3 separate regions of the Homo sapiens genome follow, and all the other regions are reported to be linked to region 3. The links are microRNA targets in miRTarBase. Many come from high-throughput screens and were not tested one by one. Region 3 holds a microRNA gene; each other region holds the end of a gene's coding sequence.

Evidence for each region. The annotated mature microRNA hsa-miR-6820-3p reads UGUGACUUCUCCCCUGCCACAG and lies in region 3 at 4,561-4,582, opposite strand. An mRNA with a match to its seed (bases 2 to 7 or 8) in the 3' UTR can be bound and repressed. Matches are read on the target gene's strand: a 7mer-m8 pairs with bases 2 to 8, a 7mer-A1 pairs with bases 2 to 7 and ends in A, and an 8mer does both.
Region 1: the mRNA of CTTNBP2NL is a reported target of hsa-miR-6820-3p. Seed matches in the 3' UTR shown: 7mer-m8 at 5,410-5,416.
Region 2: the mRNA of ERGIC1 is a reported target of hsa-miR-6820-3p. Seed matches in the 3' UTR shown: 7mer-A1 at 5,202-5,208.

The regions. Positions count from the first base shown.
Region 1 is chr1:112,456,353-112,463,515 of GRCh38, reverse strand. It overlaps CTTNBP2NL (CTTNBP2 N-terminal like), which reads right to left. Exons shown (of 6, transcript NM_018704.3): 6 at 2,352-7,163. The coding sequence ends at 6,104. MIR4256 (microRNA 4256) reads left to right here and starts at 1,683; the gene lies at 1,683-1,746.
Region 2 is chr5:172,949,561-172,956,724 of GRCh38, reverse strand. ERGIC1 (endoplasmic reticulum-golgi intermediate compartment 1) reads right to left here. Exons shown (of 10, transcript NM_001031711.3): 10 at 4,042-6,016. The coding sequence ends at 5,909. RPL26L1-AS1 (RPL26L1 antisense RNA 1) reads left to right here. Exons shown (of 4, transcript NR_026682.1): 4 at 697-1,943. It also overlaps a transcript of RPL26L1 not described here. Among named protein-coding and RNA genes, the nearest start is that of RPL26L1-AS1, 6.2 kb to the left of the region's middle. RefSeq lists an enhancer at 455-1,654.
Region 3 is chr22:37,964,991-37,972,184 of GRCh38, reverse strand. It overlaps MIR6820 (microRNA 6820), which reads right to left and starts at 4,622; the gene lies at 4,561-4,622. POLR2F (RNA polymerase II, I and III subunit F) reads right to left here. Exons shown (of 5, transcript NM_021974.5): 4 at 5,015-5,086; 5 at 2,873-4,560. The coding sequence ends at 4,470. RefSeq lists enhancers at 1-439, 3,369-3,663, 4,046-4,546, 6,780-7,194.

The DNA.
Region 1 (7,163 bases), not on the chromosome of region 3:
TTCCCCTGCTTCAGCCTCCCAAGTAGCTGGGATTATAGGTCTGTGCCACGATGCCTGGCTTTTTTTTTTTAGTTAGTAGAGATGTGGTTTCACCATGTTGACCAGGCTAGTCTCGAACTCCTGACCTCAAGTGATCCACCTGCCTCAGTCTCCCAAAGTGCTGGGATTACAGGTGTCAGCCACCATGCCCAGTCTTTGTATTAATATATGAGCTGTCCAGGGAAGGAGCTGTGACTTTGGTCAAGCTGATTTTCTTTCAGTGAAGGTAATTCCTATAAGGGGTTATATCTTGAGGGCCACTTACTGTCAGCATTCCCTGCACCTAGGGAATTAAATTTCACTCCTGAAAGGGAACCCATGTGGCACATCCTAGTGTCTAACACATTGAGTTAATGAGCAGGATTCTTGTCAGGTTAAACAGGTGACTCCCCAGAGATAAGGCCAATCTTGTTTTAACACTCCCCCCAGTAATTTCTCAGAACCAACAACTTCACAGTGGTGTGGACAGAGCCACATGTTGTATGCTCCTTGTGCTCCTCCAGTCTAACAGTGAAACAAACGCTGCCACTATTGGGAGAAGCTGCTGTCACATCCTTCGGAAGAAATAAGTCCCCTGCAAGTGTCCCAGAGGGACTCATTTGATTCTGTTCAAAGCTTAGTTTGCATTTTCCGCATTTGCTTATAGAGATTTAGAGGGTGTGAAAAAGGGAAATGGGTAGGAGAGGACATTGATGGGTAATATGGTACTTTGGCAACCAGGTCCTTTTTCAAACTGCCTTTTGCATGTTCCTAGATCTTCCCTACAAATTATTGGACAGTGTATTGCAGAATGCTGTGGCCTGGGAGCTCCTTCTTAGGTCAGCCCCAACCCTTGAAGAAAGCACCCACTGGTGTCTGTCAGTCTCCCTGAAACAGAACTCACCTCTTGGGGACGTCTTGTGCCTCCGTCTCTGACCTTATCCTAGAATCAAGACAAGCCAATTAAAACAAAAAGCAAACACAGGGACATGTTACAGAACTCCAAGTAAATAATGCCCTGGAGAGAGGAGAAAAGACATTCATTCCCTTTCTAGTTAATGTTTTCCTGCCCACAAAGAGCTCTGTTACCTCTGAGCTACCAGAGTGCTTTTACCAGAACCATCTTCAATAACTGTGTATGGTTTTTTTTTCTTAGACAGAGCCTTGCTCTGTCGCCCAGGCTGGAGTGCAGTGGCGCTATCTCGGCTCACTGCATGCTCCGCCTCCCGAGTTCACGCCATTCTCCTGCCTCAGCCTTCCGAGTAGCTGGGACTACAGGCGCCCGCTACCACACCCGGCTAATTTTTTGTATTTTTTAGTAGAGACGAGGTTTCACCGTGTTAGCCAGGATGGTCTCAATCTCCTGACCTCGTGATCCACCCGCCTCGGCCTCCCAAAGTGCTGGGATTACAGGCAAGAGCCACCGCGCCTGGCCCTCCCTGTGGTTTTTAAAAGCTCGCCTGCATTATTCTATCAAACTGTTGCCTCTGGACTCACTATGTATCATTTTGTTAATGTTTTGTTTCCCCAACTAGATTGTGAGTACCCTAAGGGCAGGGAACAGGATTAAACTTGTGTCTTCCCTAATAAGCACCTTGCTTTCTGGTTCATCTTAGATACTTAAAAAACATGTTGTTTGAGGGGAATTAATGATGTTTTATTTTTGTTCCATTTATCTGACCTGATGAAGGTCTCCTGGCATTGATTAGGTCTGATGATCCATTTCTGGGGTGGCTGTGGAGCAGCATGGTGTCCCGCATGCATTTTCTAAACTTGCTCTATCTGAAGAATCACCAAGGCATTTATCTAGAGCTCCACCTTTGCCTACTGAAATCAGAATCGCCAGGGGAGGAGCCTGGGAATCTGCTCCTCCCCAGAGACTCTCATTTGGGAAATACTGGTAGTGAAAGAACAAAGCACTAAGGTTTAAATCCTGGCTGTCATATGCTAAGGGCCCTTGCACAGATCTCTGGCCCTCAACTACCTCATCACTACACTGGGGATAATAATACCTCACAGCACCCGTGTGAGGATTAATAAGGTAATATGTATGTGAAATCATTAGCATGGTGCTTGGTACTCAAGTAGGCACTCTTGACTCTGAATATCACTGACATTCTGCCAAACCAGTTTCAGGAGCTTAAGACATTTCCTTAGGTCAGAGGCAAATAGCAAGTTGTTGTGAAAGAACAGGTAAGGGCTATGAAGGACTGTTTCTCAAAACAGACTAGCTGCATCAGCTAGTCTGAGGATCTAATCTCCAGAAATCTTTATTTTAGCAGGCTTCCCAGGTTATACTTACGCACAGTAAAGTTTGAGAACCACTACTCCAGTCTCCTTTCCCCTCCTTTATTTTTACTAATGAATTGGCCACTGATACACAAATGGTGGGTGGACAGGCTCTCATTTCTCAACTAGTTTTATAGAAATTAAATTAAAAATTATTCCTGTGGAACAATGCTCATTGCCCACTTCTGATTCATTAGGAAAACACATCCTATTTTGAAGCCAGTGTTTTGAAAGACAGTTGAAGTTCCATTTCAAGGACTAAGCATCAGAAGCACTCCTTATGAATTCACACACACACACACATACACACACACACACACAAATTGACAAGGCAGCACTGCTGACAGGCTATTAAGGGAAACCGGATATGCTAGTATTTGTTGAAATGATCATTAATTTGCTTAAATGCTGAAAACTTCAGATATGTAAACATCCACACTATTTGAACATTTTTTAGACATCAAAGGATTTTCAAGTGCTTCTCTCTGGCTTGCATTTGCTAACATTGCAGCAGCAACAGCGCTGGAGTAGTTGAAAAGGGATGCATTAATCATTTGTAAAATGAGAGAGCAGAACAAGATTATGCTTTCTTAAGCAGAAATACATGAGCCATGGATGGCTTCAGGGTCTTTGGATCCTATGAAGCCATCAAACAAATTTTGCATATAGGCATATTCATTTTTCTAGGGATAAACTCCATGGCTTTTCTAAGATTCTCAAAAAGGTCCAGAACCACCAAAAGGTTTAAAAAATCACAGACTGGATTATTGTAAAGGCTTTTTCCAGCTCTAAGACTCTAAAGAAAATCAATGTCTTAGTTCCTTATGGAGTCTAACCTGGATGGGTCATTGACTTCATTTGTTTTGTCAAAGCCACAGTCAAGTGCTCCCTCTACACCACCCCCTCTTCCCAACAAAATATGCCCAAATTGTGCCATTTTTCACTTTGTACAAACAAGACTATTTCCCCCCAAACAGCAAGATTTAACTTGTTTTAATGCAGTCTGCTATAAAAATGAAGACTTCTGCATGGTATATTTGGCTTTACAAACGTTAATGCCTAGTTAATGCTTGTGTTATATGGTACACATCATTACAATCTGTTGGCCAGTAACAGCTTTTGCAACATGGGTTAATACTAAAATTGTGAATCATGGAACTTTTACTTAGCACACACACACACAATCTACAGCAAACTTAAATACTAATCTATAATACCTAACTGGGTTATTGGATCCATTGCAAGATTGTGCTTATTTATCTCAGAAGGTAGGCAACTAGCAAAAATACACATTTCTTTCGCATATCCCCACCCCCATATTACACTGTAAAAGAAATACATTATTCAGTGCACTTCCTAAGAAATAAACTTCCTTATAGTATCTCTCTCTATATATATCTATCCCAAAACAAAGGAAGAGCACAATGCAACTTTTAAGATTACCATTTAAAGCAAAAGAGACAATAACTCTCTGGCACTGTAGCCTCCTCTCCAGTTTAGAAAGTTTAGCTATTTTATCAACACTATTCGTTTTGGCTCTGCATAGGAATAAAGTTCAATGCATGATTGCCTTGGACAGTTTAAGATACCCCCTACATCATTTTGATAGACACCTTGGGGCATTAGTAGCATTTTTATTTTTCATGTATTTGCCTTTATCAAACTATAAGCTGTGGAGTTGCCAATATACTCCATTGTGATTTATACACTGATTTCCATCACCTGCCTTTTTACTATCAACTCTTATTAGATTAAAAGGAAATAGACTTAAATTATAGCAGGAGGTCAGGGCTGCTGGATAGATGTTGGCTCAGAGAATGTATGTGAAGACACCAAGGCCTCTCCTGTATGGACACAAAATCATATAACCACTGTGTCTGAGCTGGGTTGTGGATAGTCTTATTTGGCAGAGGGGGATAGCCATTATATTCTATGAACCTTGCCAGCTGTACTGGCCTACACAGTTGGAAAGTTTGGAGGCTTTTGTCCGCATAGACTTGCTATGATGAAAATGACAGAAGTTTCTAGAATGAAAGAGGTTGCAACTTGGCAGCTTGCAAGCTAAATCCAGCTGCAGACGTGTTTGTTTAACCAGCACCATTTAAACATTTTAAAATCACTTCTTGATATTTAAAAATGAGAATGTTTCTCATGAAAATTTGGATTTCAAAAAATGTGAAGAACTGGTAATCCTGGTTTAGCATTCTTGCACCGCAGCAAGCAGATGGAGCTGAACAGATGCCCTTTTTAAATGCGGCTTGGGCACTTTAGTTTGCCACAGCTCCCACTGCTCCCAGCTGTTTTACATCGCTTGTGTGAGAGGCCTGTTTCACTCATTTATATGACCAGTTGAGTTTTGTGACACTGGGGTTAGTTTAGCTCTGCCTATTTATTTTTTTAATAGAGATGGGGTCTCACTATGTTGATGAGGCTGGTCTTGAACACCTGGTCTCAAGAGATCCTCCCATCTCAGCCTCCCAAAGTGATAAGATTACAGGCATGAGCCACTGTGCCTGGCCAGCTCTGCCTTTTTATGATACTGAAGATCTAGGCTTCATTTGGAATTTCCTCACCTTCCTGTGGACAAAATTCCTCCTTTGATTGTGTCCCAGCCACATCTAGTTGCTTCGGTAGGTAATCTTAATGTGCAGTTCTACTTGTCCTTTATGCTATATTGCAAACTCCAAAGATATAATCACACTAGTATTTATGTGTTTAAGTGTGTGTATGTTAAACATGTAAAGGGGTAATGTATCTATACAGATATATGTATACTTCCCATTTAAGCAAAAGTTAATTTGGTTTTACAGATACAGATACCAGGTTCTGGCAGCTTGGAGAATAAGTGTAACAATTTGGTAAAACTTGTATAATTCTGACTGACCTATAATATTACAGAGTGAATTTCAAGTTATTGCTTTTTGATTACAGAATAAAAAATTCATTCTCTTGCAAAACTTTTATACAGAATGAGTAACCATTTCCTATTCAAGTAACAGCAATCAGAATCAGAAGTTCCTTACACAACAGTAGATGCTTGAGACATTTTTTGAATGGAGATGTGATTTCATTCTGTTCAAGAACTTATGCAGGAAACTGGGAGTGACTTAATTTTTCAAAAGTACAAGAAAATCAGCACCCCAACTGCTTAGTGCTCAGGAGGGTTTCTCAAGGGCTCTATAAAGCTCAGCTTGTGGTGAGTTCACACCCACCTTTAGAAGGATTCCCATTCTACTTATGCAGCCTTGTTTCAGAACACAAAGCTTGTATTAAAACATTAAAAGAGGATTAAAAGCAGTGTTGGTTTTTAACATTCAGAATTCACAGAGGATCTCATTTTCTGTAATTAAATGATCTATTTTGTGTTTTTTGCTGCAGAATCACATTCATATGGCAGTCATATTTCAGGCACTTTTAAAACATGTTCATCTGGAATAAAAATCTGCATGAACCACTTCTGCATAATTCAAAATGAGTGTTGAGTGATTCTAGTTCTCAAATAGATAGCAAATCACCACCTGGTGATTCGCTTTCTTCATCACAACATGACGGTGACTGCTGAGCTTGAGACATCTTTGAGGTGCCTTTCTGGCTTCAGTAAAAAGATGTGAGCCATAAAAATCCAAACTACTCAGTTTCTACTTAAAAAAATACAAAATGGTGAAATATACTAAATGTATTATACAGATGGTTTCAGCTACTATCAAAATAAATAACATAATCTGACTCAGAAGTCTGACTGAGCTTTTGGACGAAATCTGATGGAATGTCAAACGTGGAGACTCCCTCCTAGGGACTAGCTGCTGGTAGGCAAAAGTAACTCAACATCCTTACCATTTGCTACAACAGTATTGGAAGAGCAGCTGCTGGCAAGGTCTTCTGCAGTGGTCAAAGAGGCTGCCTGGGAATGAGTTTTGGTCAATGGAGTGGTAGCAGATGGAGAAGGGGTGAGGCCAGGTTTCTTGGGTGGGATGGGTGGAGGGTTTCCTCTCTCAGCTCTGGGGATGGTTGGGGACTTGATTCCTGGAGACAGGGGGCTCAGGGGACTGGACACTTTCCCTGGAGTAGGTGAATGGCTTGTGTCACCTCTTGGATTGGCAGTGTTGGCTAGATTTCGATAGTCTGTGCCAAAGGGAGAGCTGTTGGGAGAGACTGGCTTGATTGGCCCTTGTTGGCTAGTGAATCTGGAGAGCACCTGAGTGACTGTGTTTCGGGCCAGCTGCTTGGCGGCAGAGTTGTCTATGAGGGTGGGGGATAAATCCCTGGATGGAGGGCTCTGTAGGCCACTGGCTTGTTGGTCCTGATCTGCTTGGGACTGAAATTTGTGGCGAGCTGCATGGAACCGTTGGTTGATCCCTACTTGGTACGATGACTGGTAGCCAGGGCTGCTAGCTGATGACCCCAATAAACGCTTAGTGAGTACCGGCGAAGAGCAAGGAGAGGATGTTAGAGAGGAGGAGGCAGTGCTGCTGGGAGACAGTGAGCTCCCACTGGAAGAGAGGGGACTGGGCATTGGGACTGGAGTCTCAATCCCCACAGGACACCCACCATTCTCCACTGGTTTCTCTTGGGCCAATGCCACAGATTTTTCCCGTGGAGGCACCTGGTTTTCTACATTGTTGCCTGCAGTCAGCTCCCTGGTAGTTTGTATCTCTGGGTCACAATGGCCATTGGTTTTTGCATATGAGTAAGCAGGAGTGGCAGGACCAGGCAGCCCAGTGTTTGTCATCTTGGCTATGTTGCTCCCATGGGTTCTTTCTGCTGGAAAACTCTCTGTTTGGCAAAACACAGACATTAGCATGAGAGGCTCAGTTGCTGTGCCTTTGGACACGGTTACTGGTTTCTTCAATTGCTCA
Region 2 (7,164 bases), not on the chromosome of region 3:
CTCAAGCAATCCACCTGCCTCAGCCTCCCAAAGTGCTGGGATTACAGATGTGAGCCACCACACCCGGCCTGGTGTCAGGATTAAATGAACCCTTAGCACAATACCTGGCACAGAGGAAGAACTTAATAAATGTTGGAATTTATTTATTTATTAGATGGATAATAATGGCTCTTCTTAATGGGCTGAGCATTTACTGTCAGGCATTGTGCTAACAGGTTTACAAGCATTACCTCATTTCAGTCCGTTAAATAACAGTATGAATTGTCCCTTTTACAGGTGAGAAAACTGAGGCTCTGAGTGAGATGGGAACAAAGGATGGACATAATCTACCATTAGATGCTCAATATGGTTATTATTTATCTTGCAGCCCATAAAGATAATAATGCGATCCGTATTTATTAATCTAGGAAGATGTCTGTTAAGTGAGGGCTAAGCTATACAATAATATGAACAGTATGATCCCATTTTGCTTATCAAAAGGCATCACTAAAATGTTATCATTAAATGATCATCTCTGATTAGTGGGATTACGGGTGACTTTCGTTTTTCCCCTTTTACTTTTTTTAGTATTTGATAATTTTCCTCCAGTGGGCTTATGAGCCTGTGTTATTTGTGTAATTAAAATTACATTTTGAAGATTTAAAAAATTGTAAGAACGCTGTCCCTGCGAATGTTTAATTTAGATTTTCTCTGCAGGTTGTTTTAAAGGAAAAACAAAACCAAAAAAAGCACCTCCTGCTCTGACCACCCCTATTTCCAGTTTTCCCTTTTGGCACAGCAAAGATGACCTTGGGACTGAGGTGGAACCATGTAATTCTTCGTAATCCCAGAGTCAGGCAGACCTGGGTATGAATTCCATCTTTACTAACTGTGTGACTCACTGTGTGGCCATGCCAAGTTACGAGGTCTCTCTGTTTCCTCCTTCCTAAAAAGGAGATAACATCCATCTCGAAGGAAGATCTGGCCTGAAGAGCAGTCACTCTTGCCTGGCATGCAGAGAATGCCAAATCATATTAATGACTGGCCAGAATGAAGTGCGTGACCTCATCACTCCATAACTGACAGGAAACAACTGCTAGGGCAAGAAAAAAGGGTCTCCAGTGAGTATTCTTGTCCACACACATCCCCACTCACGTTCCTGGACCACTGCATCTAACTGCCGCAGCAGCTAATGAACCTTCTGGAATAAAGGACCAGTTTCTTAAGAAGGGATTGAGACCTCCAGTGGCCTCCCACATTGTTTCCGGCAAGAATTTAAAAATTATTTGTAACATATAGTAATAAAAACTAACCACAGGCTGGGCGCAGTGGCTCACGCCTGTAATCCCAGCACTTTGGGAGGCTGAGGCAGGTGGATCACCTGAGGTCAGGAGTTCGAGACCAGCCTGACCAATATGGTGAAACCCTGTTTCTCCTAAAAATACAAAAATTAGCTGGGCATGGTGGTGGGCGCCTGTAATCTCAGCTACTCAGGAGGCTGAAACAGGAGAACTGCTTGAATCTGGGAGGTAGATGTTGCAGTGAGCCGATATCGCGCCATTGCACTCCAGCCTGGGCAATGACTCCGTCTCAAAAAAAAAAAAAAAAAAAAAAAACTAACCACAGCTACTATTTATGAACTCTAGTGCCACACCCCATTTCTTCCCAGGTTTCACCCCCTCTTCCCAGGTTTCACCCACCCCAACCAGTGTTGTTTGCAACACTTCAGCTTCTCTCCTCACGAAGCACGTCTCCAGAGACGCCTCTTCCGCAACTTCCCAGGGAAGCCATTTCTGCCTGGACCCACCACAGCTCCCAACCTGTCACGCACCCCTGGAGGGTTTTGCTCTGTAATCCTGATTTAGAAATCCTCTTATATGAAACCACTGTAATCCACATCTGGTTAGACAATTGGAAAAGTTCATTGAAAGGAGAAATAATAAAAATGGCATCCATCCCTTAAATGTTGTATGCCAACGTAAAACACATTCGACAATGACCCTGGGCTAAGGCTCTACCTTACAGAGAAACCTGTATCGGTGTTCCCCTCCATTTTCCTTACATAAACCAACCAAAAATCTTCAGTTGTTCCGTTCTCTGTCTCTCTCCCTCTCCACACCCACCTTCCCTCTTCCTCTCTCCCTCCCTCCCTCTCTCTTTCTCTCTTTTTTGAGACAGAGTTTCACTCTGTCACCCAGGCTGGAGTGCAGCGGCTAGATCTTGGTTCACTGCAGCCTCCACCACTCCCCCCACTTCCCCCCCGCCGCCCCTGCCCCCACCGCAGCCTCCCAGGTGGCTGGGACTACAGGCCACCACGCCCACTAATTTTTGTATTTTTTCTATAGAGACGGGGTTTCATCATGTTGCCCAGACTGGTCTCAAACTCTTGGGCTCAAGCAATCCTCTCACCTCAGCCTCCCGGTGCTGGGATTATAGGCGTGAACCATCGCGTCCGGCCTCCCAAATCTTTTACAGTTGTCTTGTTCACTTCTCATTCAGCAGCATTTTGAGTTGGGAGGGGTAACAACTCACCTTAATCAAGTCTCTCTAAAGCATTCAACTTAGTTTTACTAGGTTCATTTCTTGTAGCTCATTGGTTTAACTAATAGTTCCCCAAATCACATCCTACCAGTATAAAAGCACAACTGGTATAAACACGTTTGGGAACACACATAACTCAAGTATCAGGATGTAAGAGCGAGAGCATGGGGAGAGTTAAGAATTTCTCACAGACTGATTCCCTCCCACATTCATCCCTGGTGTGTTTATCCGTGTTAGGGCTGTTCTGATGAAAGTCTTGTAGGACTTGGCAGCAAGATGGGAAAGATCCATGGAAGTCCATTGCTCATAGCTGATGATGATCTCTCATTGCTGAGCTTAGGGTTGAAAAAGGAGTGCCAGGTCCTTTGAAATCAAGAAGAATTTATGAATCACCTTTCATTTATGGAGCCCTTAGCTCAAAGCTCTAAAGTTAGTCTTTTCTCAAGATTATATCCTATTTGGGAATGCTCATAATGGTCCAATCACCATTTGTGAAAACTTACTGTGTACCAGCAATAAACACTCTTCTACATAGACAATCTCATTCTAATATAATTTCTGTGCACGTTATAGATTCTATTTCTGAAACAGCCCTATGTGGTAGTTTTATTACTATCCTCATTTTCACCCAACAAATCTGAGGCACTGAGAGGTTAAGGACCTGGACTGAAGCTGCACAGCTAGAAGGTGACAGACCCAAGAACATTCTGTAGGGACTCAATAAAGGAATGACTTAATCTAAGGGGGCTTGACTTTCTTTCTTCTTTTCTTTTTTTTTTTTTTGAGACGGAGTCTCGCTTTGTCCCCCAGGCTGGAGTGCAATGGTGCGATCTCAGCTCACTGAAACCTCTGCCTTCCAGGTTCAAGCGATTCTCCTTGCCTTAGCCTCCTGAGTAGCTGGGATTACAGGTGCCTGCCACCACGCCCAGCTATTTTTTGTATTTTTAGTAGAGATGGGGTTTCACCATGTTGGCCAGGCTGGTTTTGAACTCCTGACCTCAGGTGATCCACCCGCCTCTGCCTCCCAAAAGTGTTGGGAATACAGGTGTGAGCCACTGCACCTGGCCAAAGGGGGTTTCACTTTTTTTTTTTTTTGAGATGGAGTCTCGCTCTGTCGCCCAGGCTGGAGTGCAGTGGCACGATCTCGGCTCACTGCAAGCTCTGCCTTCTGGGTTCATGCCATTCTCCTGCCTCAGCCTCTGGAGTAGCTGGGACTACAGGCGCCCGCCACCACACCTGGCTCATTTTTTGTATTTTTAGTAGAGACGGGGTTTCTCCATGTTAGCCAGGATGGTCTCGATCTCCTGACCTCCTGATTGGCCCACCTCGGCCTCCCAAAGTGCTGGGATTACAGGCGTGAGCCACCGTGCCTGGCCGGGGTTTGACTTTCTGATCATCCTCACAGATCTCCTTTTCAACTCTTCTACCTTCTCTCCTCTAGAAGTGAATTCCATTCTGGCTGTGATTCCAGCCTTTGGGTCACCCAGCCCCAGTCAAGGTAGAAAGAATCACACCATAATATTTCTGAAAATCAGCCTTTTAATCTAGTTGAACCCAACGAGTGGGGAAAGAACTAAAACATTTTTTTCCCTTCAGATTTTGATTATAAGAATAACGGGTCAGAGGTGTCTCTTCCATAGGAAACTGACATCCCCTATGTCCTCAGAGTTGTTTTTTTTTTTTTCTTCAAAAAAATGCATAAAAGAATTTCAACTCATGTGCATGCCACACATTTCCATCCCCACCCCACCCTGCCCCACCCTCTACAGGCACACATATTCACACACCAAAGGGACTCCTTCCTGTAACTGGGGAACAGAATGTAAAAAAATCCATCCAAGTGGCCACCGATACCAGAAATAACCAAATGCATTTACACTCACAACATCAGTCAACTCACATGCACAAGGAGAAGCGTCTCCAATCGGAGCTTAGAGCCAAAAATTACAAATGGCAGAGACTTGAGCTATCCATAAGATAATTTTAAAAATCCTTCCACTGGACACTCCCCTTCATTACAAAAGTATGCAAACAATCTTGCTATAAATGGAAAACAGGCGTGTGGCTCTCTCCCTGGGACATGAGGGCATAGCTAAAATTCCCTGGGTGGAATTAATGCCTGGACCATTGCTCCTCCCTTTCAGGACAAAAGGGAAAGGATGAAGAGGAGCAGCAGGGTAGGGACCCACCTCAGGAGCAGGTGGGGCACCCTGGAGCTGCCTCAGGGGCTGGGAACGTGTTGGCATGTGACCAGCTGATGGAGGAGCACAGTGTCAAGTGGGCCACGATGGCTGTAGAGAAACCCAAGTGCTCTGCACCCGTAGGGAGTCCAGAAGGTAGAGGTCCACGGACAGGACAGGCCTGGCCTGCTTTGCTTCCTCCACCTAAGGCCTTGGGACCGATGGCGTCCGTCTGAGAGGCTGCATGATTATTTTAGGGTTGCAGGAAGGATGCTTCCCATCTGGACGTAAGTGCACAAACCATGTCTATCTGGATCTCAAAAGATGACTTCCCCTTTACACAACCCCCACTCCCTGCCACTGCAGATCCCAGCAGAGTGGTGGGAGATCTTGGCAGTGGGAACCAGAATGCTGTTGCCACACAGCACACAGGCTGAGGCACATTGGTGGAGGGTTCAGAGGAACGAGGAGAAGAGAGGAAGAGGAATCTGTGACCCGCCTTGTGACTGGTGGGCAGATTCAAGTCTCTACCGCTGCTGCTGAGCAACTGGGCATCTGCTTCTTGGAAGAACAAGAAAGGGGTGGGGTAAAGACTTGAGGCCTGGGTTCTAGGTTGGGCAGGAAGGGATGGGGCAGAAGTCAGGGTTCCATCTATAGTGACAAATCATAGGGGCTTGCTTGGGAAGTACCATCTTTCGTGGAAGGTGCCGGGTGTATAAAGGAGTACCTTTGGGCAGCCTGGTCCCAAAGCTGAAAGCCCAGGTCTGGTGCCTCTGGGGCAGGTTGGCTGCCCAGGGGAGAAACCAAATCATTAATGTGTCCACCTAGTGGGGGCTGCGAGATTGTCGAAGCCTGGCTGAGAGCTGATCGATATGCATTCTGGGATGTTCCCCTGAGGGAAGAGACTGCAGCTCTCCTAGGAGGGGTCCCCAAGATCCCTGGACTCCCCACCCCTTGCCTGACTCTGTTCTTGGGGCTCCCCAGGGAAAGGGGAACTGCAACTTCAGGCAGTGTAATTTGTCTAAAAAGAAACACGGGGAAAAGAGGTAGCTGCAAAACATCGAGCCATCCTCTACTTTCCCCCCACTTCCCACACACCCTTTGGGACACAGCCAGATTTGGGACCAGATTGAGGGCCAAAGGAGACAGGGCACTGGAGGCAAGGCTGGCGATGCCCAGGGTCCTCGGCCATTAGGCTGGGTGTGGCGTCAATGCATCTTGCCCAGCTGGATCTTCTTCCAGGCCTCAGAGGCTGTGAAGATGCATGAGTCCAGGATGCCGGCGACGGTGAAGGTCCCGCCAATGATGGCACAGATCTGCAAGAGGGCAGGGGTGGGGTGGGAGTGTCAGAAGTCAGTGCTGGAGGATGAACCAGGCCAGACCCCTCCCACATCATGAGATGATGGGCTCTGCAAGGCAGACATTGCCCGTTAAGCCCATAATACCCACTACATAGTCACCAAGTCCGGAACATACTTAGGGCTCAAAGAAAACCAGTTGTTGGATGGTGGATTTAATAATAATAAAATAATTTTCACCATTATGAGCTCCTTTAATTCCCATATTCACCCTCTGAATGAGGAAGGGAATTATTAGACCCATTTCACAGCGGAGGAAACTGAGGTTCATCAGGTGACTTGCCTAAGTTCACCACTAGCAGAGATGCAACTTGAACACAGGTACGTCTTAACTCTGGAGCCTGTGGTCTTAACCTCAACTCTGAATTTATCACATATTTACAATCCCATTTGCAGATGAAGGAAATGGAGGTTCTGAAAGGCAGTCCCAGGGGCCCAAGGTCACACAGCCAAGAAATGGCATCCTGGGACTTGATGGGTAGTAAGCAAATAATCATACCAATAAATGCAAAATTATAGCCAAGGCAAGTGCTACAAAGGACAGAGAGGCCTTTGGTGCTACCAGAAAGCTTCTATTAGAGCAAGGTTTCTTTTTCTTTTTCTTTTTTTTCTGTCTTCCAGGCTGGAGTGCAGTGGCGTGATCTCAGCTCACTGCAAGCTCCGCCTCCCGGGTTCACGGCATTCTCCTGCCTCAGCCTCCCGAGTAGCTGGGACTACAGCTGCCTGCCACCGCGCCTGGCTAATTTTTTGTATTTTTAGTAGAGACAGGGTGGGGGTGTTTCACCGTGTTAGCCAGGATGGTCTTGATCTCCTGACCTCGTGCTCCACCCGCCTCGGCCTCCCAAAGTGCTGGGATTACAAGCATGAGCCACTGTGCCTGGCCAGGGCAAGGTTTCTAATGGCACCATTGACATTTGGGGCCAGAGAATTTTTTGCCACAGGGGCTGTCCTTTGCAGAAGGATTTAGCATCCCTGGCCTCTACCCAGGAGATGCCAATCATACCCCCCCCCGCCACGCTGTGACAACCACAATGTCTCCAAACATTGCCAAATGTCCCCAGATGTCAAAATTGCCCCTGGTTGAGAATGGCGGTAGCAGGAGGATA
Region 3 (7,194 bases):
CCACCTCCCTCCCTCTTTCCCCACCCCCTTCCCCTCCCCCCTCCTCTCTCTCTCCCCCCTCCCTTCTCTCCTCTCTTTCTCTCTCTCTCTCCCCCCTCCCCCTCTCCTTTCTCTCTCTCTCCCCCCTCCCACTCTCCTCTCTCTCTTTCTGTCTCTCTCCCTGCTAAGAAAGTGGGAACAATGGAGAGTGTTAGGACAGCTGGCATCCCAGTGGGGTCCATCTGAGCTCAGGGACTGAAGCCTCAGATGGGAACTTCTCCCCAGCCCGGCGGCTATGCCCCACACTGCAGGGGGGCCACTCACTCTTAACTGGCTCAGCTAGAACTCACTGCCTTGCAAGCAGCCCCTCTGCTCACCCAGCACTCAGCAGACGGGAGTTTGCAAAGAATTCAAGAGACAGGTATCTGAAGAGGAGGAGGTGGGCTGAGGGTGACACCGTGCTGCCTGCAGTCAGAGGCCTGTCCTTCAGGATGTGTGGATAGGCCCTGTGTTGCTGCATCCCCCCACTTGCCACCTCCCCCAGCACACACACAGCAGCCCACGCCAGGATCTAGCCAAGCCTTCACAGCAGGTGCCCATGTCCAAGTCCAGACCAAGGATGTCAGACAGTCTACTCCTTAAGCGCCTACTCCCTAAGAGCTCTTTCCTCAGCAGAAGTCCAAACTGCACCCAGAGGCCAGGACCACTCCACCTCACAAGCACACAACTCCAAAGACTCTTTGCCATCTTGCTCCACTGATGAACAACTCCGATGGTTGGAAGTTCTTCCTCATACCCAGCTCATAACAGCTTATATCCAGCTGCCATTTACTAAGTGCTCCACCAAGGGTTTTATGTCATTCAGGCCAGTGAAGGGGTAGGTCCGATCGTTATCTCAATTTTCCAGATGGGGAAACTGAAGTTTGCGAGGCTGATGCTAAGAAGTGCTGGTGCCAGAATCTGAACCCAGCTCTGACTCCAAGGCTTGCATTTTTAACCATCATCCCCTCCACCTGCCTGTGGTTTGCAGCCCCTGCTTCTGCTTTGTATCTGGAGCAATGCATCTTCCACTGCTCCAGACTGGGCATCCTCAGCTCCCTTCCTTCCATCTGCGGTCTCCAGCCCCTAGTCAGGACCAGGGGAGAGGCAGGGCACCAAGAAGTAGCCCAGTCCCCAGGGTGGCCAAAATCCCTCCATCTAGGACCTGCATCATGGAAGCTCTTCAAGCAACCTCCCCAAAACTGCTGGTTCCCGTGAAGCTGGATGGTAACCGAAACCCCGATCTTTTAGACAATATCCATTGCAAAGTCATATCCAAATTGTATGTATGCTGTTTTTGTTTTGTTTTAGATAAAAGCAGGACTTTACACTGATCTTTAACAGATCTCACCTTGTTGGGTTTGACCCATTTCCCCACCTGTATTAAACTTTTTAGAACTTAGCTCTCCTTTAGAGCTTTATGTATCTGCAAACTTGAATAGCCTCATTCAAGTCACTAATAAAGGTCGAAATGAAGAGGGACACCTGTGTACAGCATTAAACGCCTCTCTCCACTGTCAGTCCTATTATCTCCACTCTTTTTTTTTTTTTTTTTTTTTTTTAGATGGAGTCTTGCTCTGTTGCCAGGCTGGAGTGCAATGTTGCAATCTTGGCTCCCTGCAACTTCTGTCTCCTGGGTTCAAGTGCTTCCCCTGCCTCAGCCTCCCGAGTAGCTGGGACTACAGGTGTGCACCACCACGCCCAGCTAATTTTTTTTTTTTTTTTTTAAGTAGAGACAGGGTTTCACCATGTTGTCTAGGATGGTCTCAATCTCCTGACCTCATGATCCGCTTGCCTCGGCCTCCTAAAGTGCTGGGATTACAGGCGTAAGCCACCGCACCTGGCCTATTATCTCCACTCTTTTTTTTTTTTTGAGACGGAGTCTCTCTCTGTCGCCCAGGCTGGAGTGCAGTAGCGGGATCTCGGCTCACTGCAAGCTCCGCCTCCCGGGTTCACGCCATTCTCCCGCCTCAGCCTCCCGAGTAGCTGGGATTACAGGCGCCCGCCACCACACCTGGCTAATTTTTTGTATTTTTTAGTACAGACGGGGTTTCACTGTGTTAGCCAGGATGGTCTTGATCTCCTGACCTCGTGATCTGCCAACCTCAGCCTCCCAAAGTGCTGGGATTACAGGTGTGAGCCACCACGCCCAGCTATTATCTCCACTCTTGAGGCTGTCTAATCAGTTCTAAAACTGTCTAATTACATCACCATGAAGCACACACTTCTCTGTCACAGTGGCATGGAGACTACTGATGCCTTGTCAAAATCAAGATTCACTGATCTCTGGCATTCTCTCAACCTACTGGACCAGTAACCATCGAAAAAAAAACTTATTTGGCAATATTGGTTCTTAGACACCCTATGCTAGTGCCCGATCTCCTCTTTATTATATAAGCACTTTTAAACATGGAGGGACCTATTCTAGAATTTTGTCATGGATCAATCAGTACTAACCTTATGTGTTTATAATCTTTACAACCCACCCTTTCCCCTTCATTGAAAGGCAGGACTTTTGTCCATTTGTGGTCTGTTCACTACTCCTGCTCGCCGTGGGATGAGGGATATGGAGCTGGCACAGTGGGGAGCAGGGGGCACATCCGGAAGATGACACTATCACCTCCAAGACCCCACATCTCATGAGAGTGAGTGGGAAATCACTGAGGATGTGGAAGGAGGGGAAATGACCCCAAGGAAGTCAGAAGACCTGGGTTGTGTGCATCCCTTAGACCAAAGGTTCCAAGTGTGCACAGGCCTCAGGAAGGCAGGAGCTCCACTTGTTAAAAAAGGGTCAGGTGTTTCTGGAAATGACTCAAGAGACTATGCCCAAACCCTAAGAAAACAGAACCAATAGTGGTGACCGGGACATTTTATTCAAGAGAAGTCAAAAGCCAGGCCCAGACAGCTGAATAGCAGGGGACTCCCCAAAAGAGGAGAATGGGAAGAGGAAGACAGGAGGAAAAACACCCCTTCTGTCCCATTTCCCTTGCACTCTATCCCCTAAGGGTTAACCCCCAATTCCCCTCCTCCCCAGCCCAAACCCCATCTCCCTTTAATCACATCTGATACTGAGCAGCCCAGCAGGGAACAAAGAGACCATTTAGAGAAATGGGGCCGAGAAAGTGACCCCCGCACTCTGGGGCGGCTGCCTGGATGCCAGCACAAAGGCGGCATTTCAGAGCTGAAATTTCAGCACCCAACTTGATTAAAGGATTCCACAGGCTTGGAGGAGGGTGGATGGGAGTGTGAAGTCCACTGCTCCCTGAATTAACCCTTCTCCAGGGCAGCGGACACCCCTCCCACCAATGCAGATCCTCACCATTCACTCCCCACATCCCATCCCAGGGCCAGGCTGCACCTAGGCCTGGAGGCCCTGCCTCCTGCAGAGGTTAGGGAAGCCCAGCTCCTCCTCTTTGAAGGGGAGCTGGCAGTGGAATGGAGGTTAAGGCTGGCATATTCAGGGAGCCAGTTTACCCTCTATCCCTGTTCATGTCAATATACACCCTCCCCCTGACCCCCTCTAGGAGGGAGGAGCCAGTGTGACTGGTCTTACCTCAGGTTGGGTAAGCAGGGTGGAGAAAGGAAGAGGACCCATTAGAACCTCAGGCAGAGGAAGGGGGAACTCCAGCTCTGACTTAATGTAACACCTGGAACCCAGGAGCACCACCACCCCAGCACCATGTCCCCAAGGCCTCAGGGGATCACCAGCCCCAAATAGGAGGGAAAGGATATCTTATAGAGGCTAGGAAGAAGGCATGGGTGTGGCACACCAAAGAGGTGGGCCACAGAGGACAGCGTGTGGGCAGAGTCCTGAGGAGGAGTGGGGACAGAGCCATGGGGGCAGGGGTAGGCAGGTGCTCGGTCCTTGCTCCAGCTGCTGACTTGCCCAGCAGGGCTCTGCCTGGGGAGGGTGGGAGATCAGCACACCCCCACGCTTCCTGCTGGGGCACTGCTCCTGAAAGGGGATCCGAGCCCACGATAAGAGGCTCGAAGCAGGTCCTTAGGAAACAATGGGTGGCTTGATGAGACCTGCTCTGTGATACTCCTGAGAAGGGAGAAGCCCCTGCAGCCAGTCCCCACTGGAAAGGAAATTGGGGGTTTCCGTGGCAACCAGCTCCCTGGGCACAAAGACTTGTCTGTCTGCTTGGAAGGCAGCTGAGGTGTCTCCCCTGCAGCAGCCTTTGCTCTGGGGAACAGGGAGATGGAGGGAAGGATGTGGGGGATCCAAAGGGGCTAAGGGCCCCTGGTGCTTCTTAAGGAGCTGACAGTCACAGGGCCACTGGAATAGGTGCATGCTCCACGCAGCATGGCGGTAACGGGGAAGCAACAGGTGGTGACATTGCAGATAAGCAGAGGGGAAGGGGGTTGGAAAGTTGAATATTTTATTATTTACACATATAAAGTGAGAATGAAAATTGGGCATGGGGCAAGGGCAGGAAGATGACTCCAGCTCAGTCGGTGATGATGAGCTCGTCCACCCCCCAGTCTTCATAGCTCCCATCTGGCAGGTAACGGCGAATGATGATGGGGATCTTTCGGGCCCTGTGGCAGGGGAGAAGTCACAAGTACATGAGGGCTGGTGACCCCAGCTCTGCCGCAGAAGGAACAGATTGTGTGCAAAACACAAGCAAAGAGAAGTCTTAGGAGCAGCCTCTTGGGGCTGATGAGTGTACTTTGTAAGAAAGCAATTACAAGAAAAAGAAAGTTTTTATATCAGACAAGAGGGGGAAGAATGACAGAATATTGGTAAGGCCTCCTGCAGCAGGAACAGGGAAATTCCAACAGCCAGAAGACGTCCATGTCTCATCAGTGCCCTCCCACTTTCCCTGCCTCCTCTTCTCTCTTCCTCCTACTTCCTGGTGAGCTGTTCCTAAGGATCTGTAGGAATAAGCATCAACTTCTCCAGCCAGGCAAGTGGGAGCAAAGGGTGCAACAGAGAGCCCAACAGATGCCTCCCAGAGATTTGGAGAAGTGAACCATGATTTGAGTGACTTACTTGAGTTCCTTCATGGCAATGAGCAGAGGATCTGTCTCCCCCTCCAGCTCCACCATCACAGGGGCACACATCCTGTAGGGATAGGGACAGGTGTTAGGGAGACTACAAACCCAGGGAGAAGGGCCCAACAGGCAGTGAGGGTGGAACGGCATCCTGGTCCCCACCTAGAAACGTCATCTTCTAGGTAGGCAGGCACAGTAGGGAGTGGTGTGTAGGGGCACTGCCAGAGATCTTCCCTGGCAGAGGCCTATCACAGACTCCGGAGTCCAGCGGCCACAGCAGAATGTCCTGGTGGAAAGGGAGACATGTGCAAAGGCACACCATTCTAACTGCTCCAACCCCAGAGCCTTGCCTCAGTGCCCAGTGCACCTCATTTCAATTTCTATTTTCTCTCTCTACTTTTTGGAGACAAGGTTTCACTCCCATTGCCCAGACTGGAGTGCAATGGGGAGATCGTGGCTCACTGCAACCTCCACCTCCCAGGCTCAAGCAATTCTCCTGCTTGGGACTACAGGCATACACCACCAGCTATGCTAATTTTTTTATTTTTTGTATAGATGGGTGAAATTAACATTTCGCCATGTTGCCCAGGCTGGTCTCGAACTCCTGGGCTCAAGCAATCCGCCTGCCTCAGCCTTCCAGATTGCTGGGATGAAAGGCATGAGCCACCATGCCCGGCATCATTTCCATTCTCTATAGACACAACACCTCAGTAGAGGCCCTGCCCTTCCTGCCCAGCCCTCCCCACCCTTCACCTGAGGCCAGCAGTCAGGGGGCTCACCTGCTTACAACACTGTCATGACTCCCCTTGGCTATCAGGCCAGAGTGCAGTCTGGTCCCTGTTTGCCTTCCTAGCACAGTCCCGTGCTACTTTCCTGTATTTACTCCACATTCCAGCCATACCAAACTATTTCTGGTTCCCTAGATGCGCCATGTTGTTTCCCTTTTGTGTGCTCTTACAAGCTCTTCCTCTCCCTAAAAACCTGCGAGAGGTTCAGATGTCTCCACCCTGGAAATCGTGTGCTGACTCTTCAGTACCTGGACTCATTTTGCATATACTTTTCTTGGCACCAATCTCATTGAACTGTAACTACTTGTTTGGAAACTTTCCACATTAGACCATGAGCTCCTAGTGGCCCAGAACCACATGTGATTCACCACGGAGGCCCAGCCCCCAGCATAACACTTGGCCCACAGTGGGGACTCTACCACCAAGCAAAGGGATGCCAATTCTAGGCCCATCTCCTCTAGGAAGCCACCCCTGATGATTCCAGCTCAGGTTCACACCAACAAATCCAGAATTAACAGGAGAGCATGCTAAAAAATACAGGTTCCTGGGTCCTTCCCCAGACCCCCGGAATAGAATCTCTAGTGAAGCGGCCTGAGAGCCTGCATTTGCAAAACTGCCCAGATGATTCTGATAATCAGCTAGTCTGAGAGCTACCAGCTTACTAATTTTATTACTAAATATTTCGATTTATATTACTCCCAAAAGCCTGAAAATTTCCCAAGGGCAGAGATGAAGTATTTAACTTTCCCTATATCCTCTCTTAATAAGTATTTAAACTTTCCCAAAATATAAAGCTTTAAAGAATGTGGCAAAATACCTGATCTGCATGTGCCTGCTTTCTTTCAAAATATAAATAATTCAAGGGCATTCACTCATTCCGCACCTATTATGCACATGGAATGTGCAAGAATGTGTCCTTAAGTAATTTAATTTTTCTTGCACCATGGCTTCTACAGAGAAACACATCAACCATCCAGTTAAGAAGTAGATGTGACAAACATCATCAGCCACCAGGTGGTGCTAATGAACCAGACTGAAACCCCATCCAAAACCTACCCAACAAACAGTTGTTCTGGCCAGGTGCAGTGGCTCACGCCTCTAATCACAGCACTTTGGGAGGCTGAGACAGGTGAATCACCTGAGGTCAGGAGTTTGAGACCAGCCTGGCCAACATGGTGAAACCCCGTCTCTACTAAAAATACAAAAAATTAGCCGGCCGTGGTGGCACATGCCTGTAGTCCCAGATACTCGAGAGGCTGAGGCATGAGAATCGCTTGAACCAGGAGGTGAAGGTTGCAGTGAGCCGAGATGGCACCACTGCACTCCAGCCTAGGTGACAGAGTGAGACTCCACCTGCACCTACCAAGTGCAGAGTCCCATTATGGCTGTA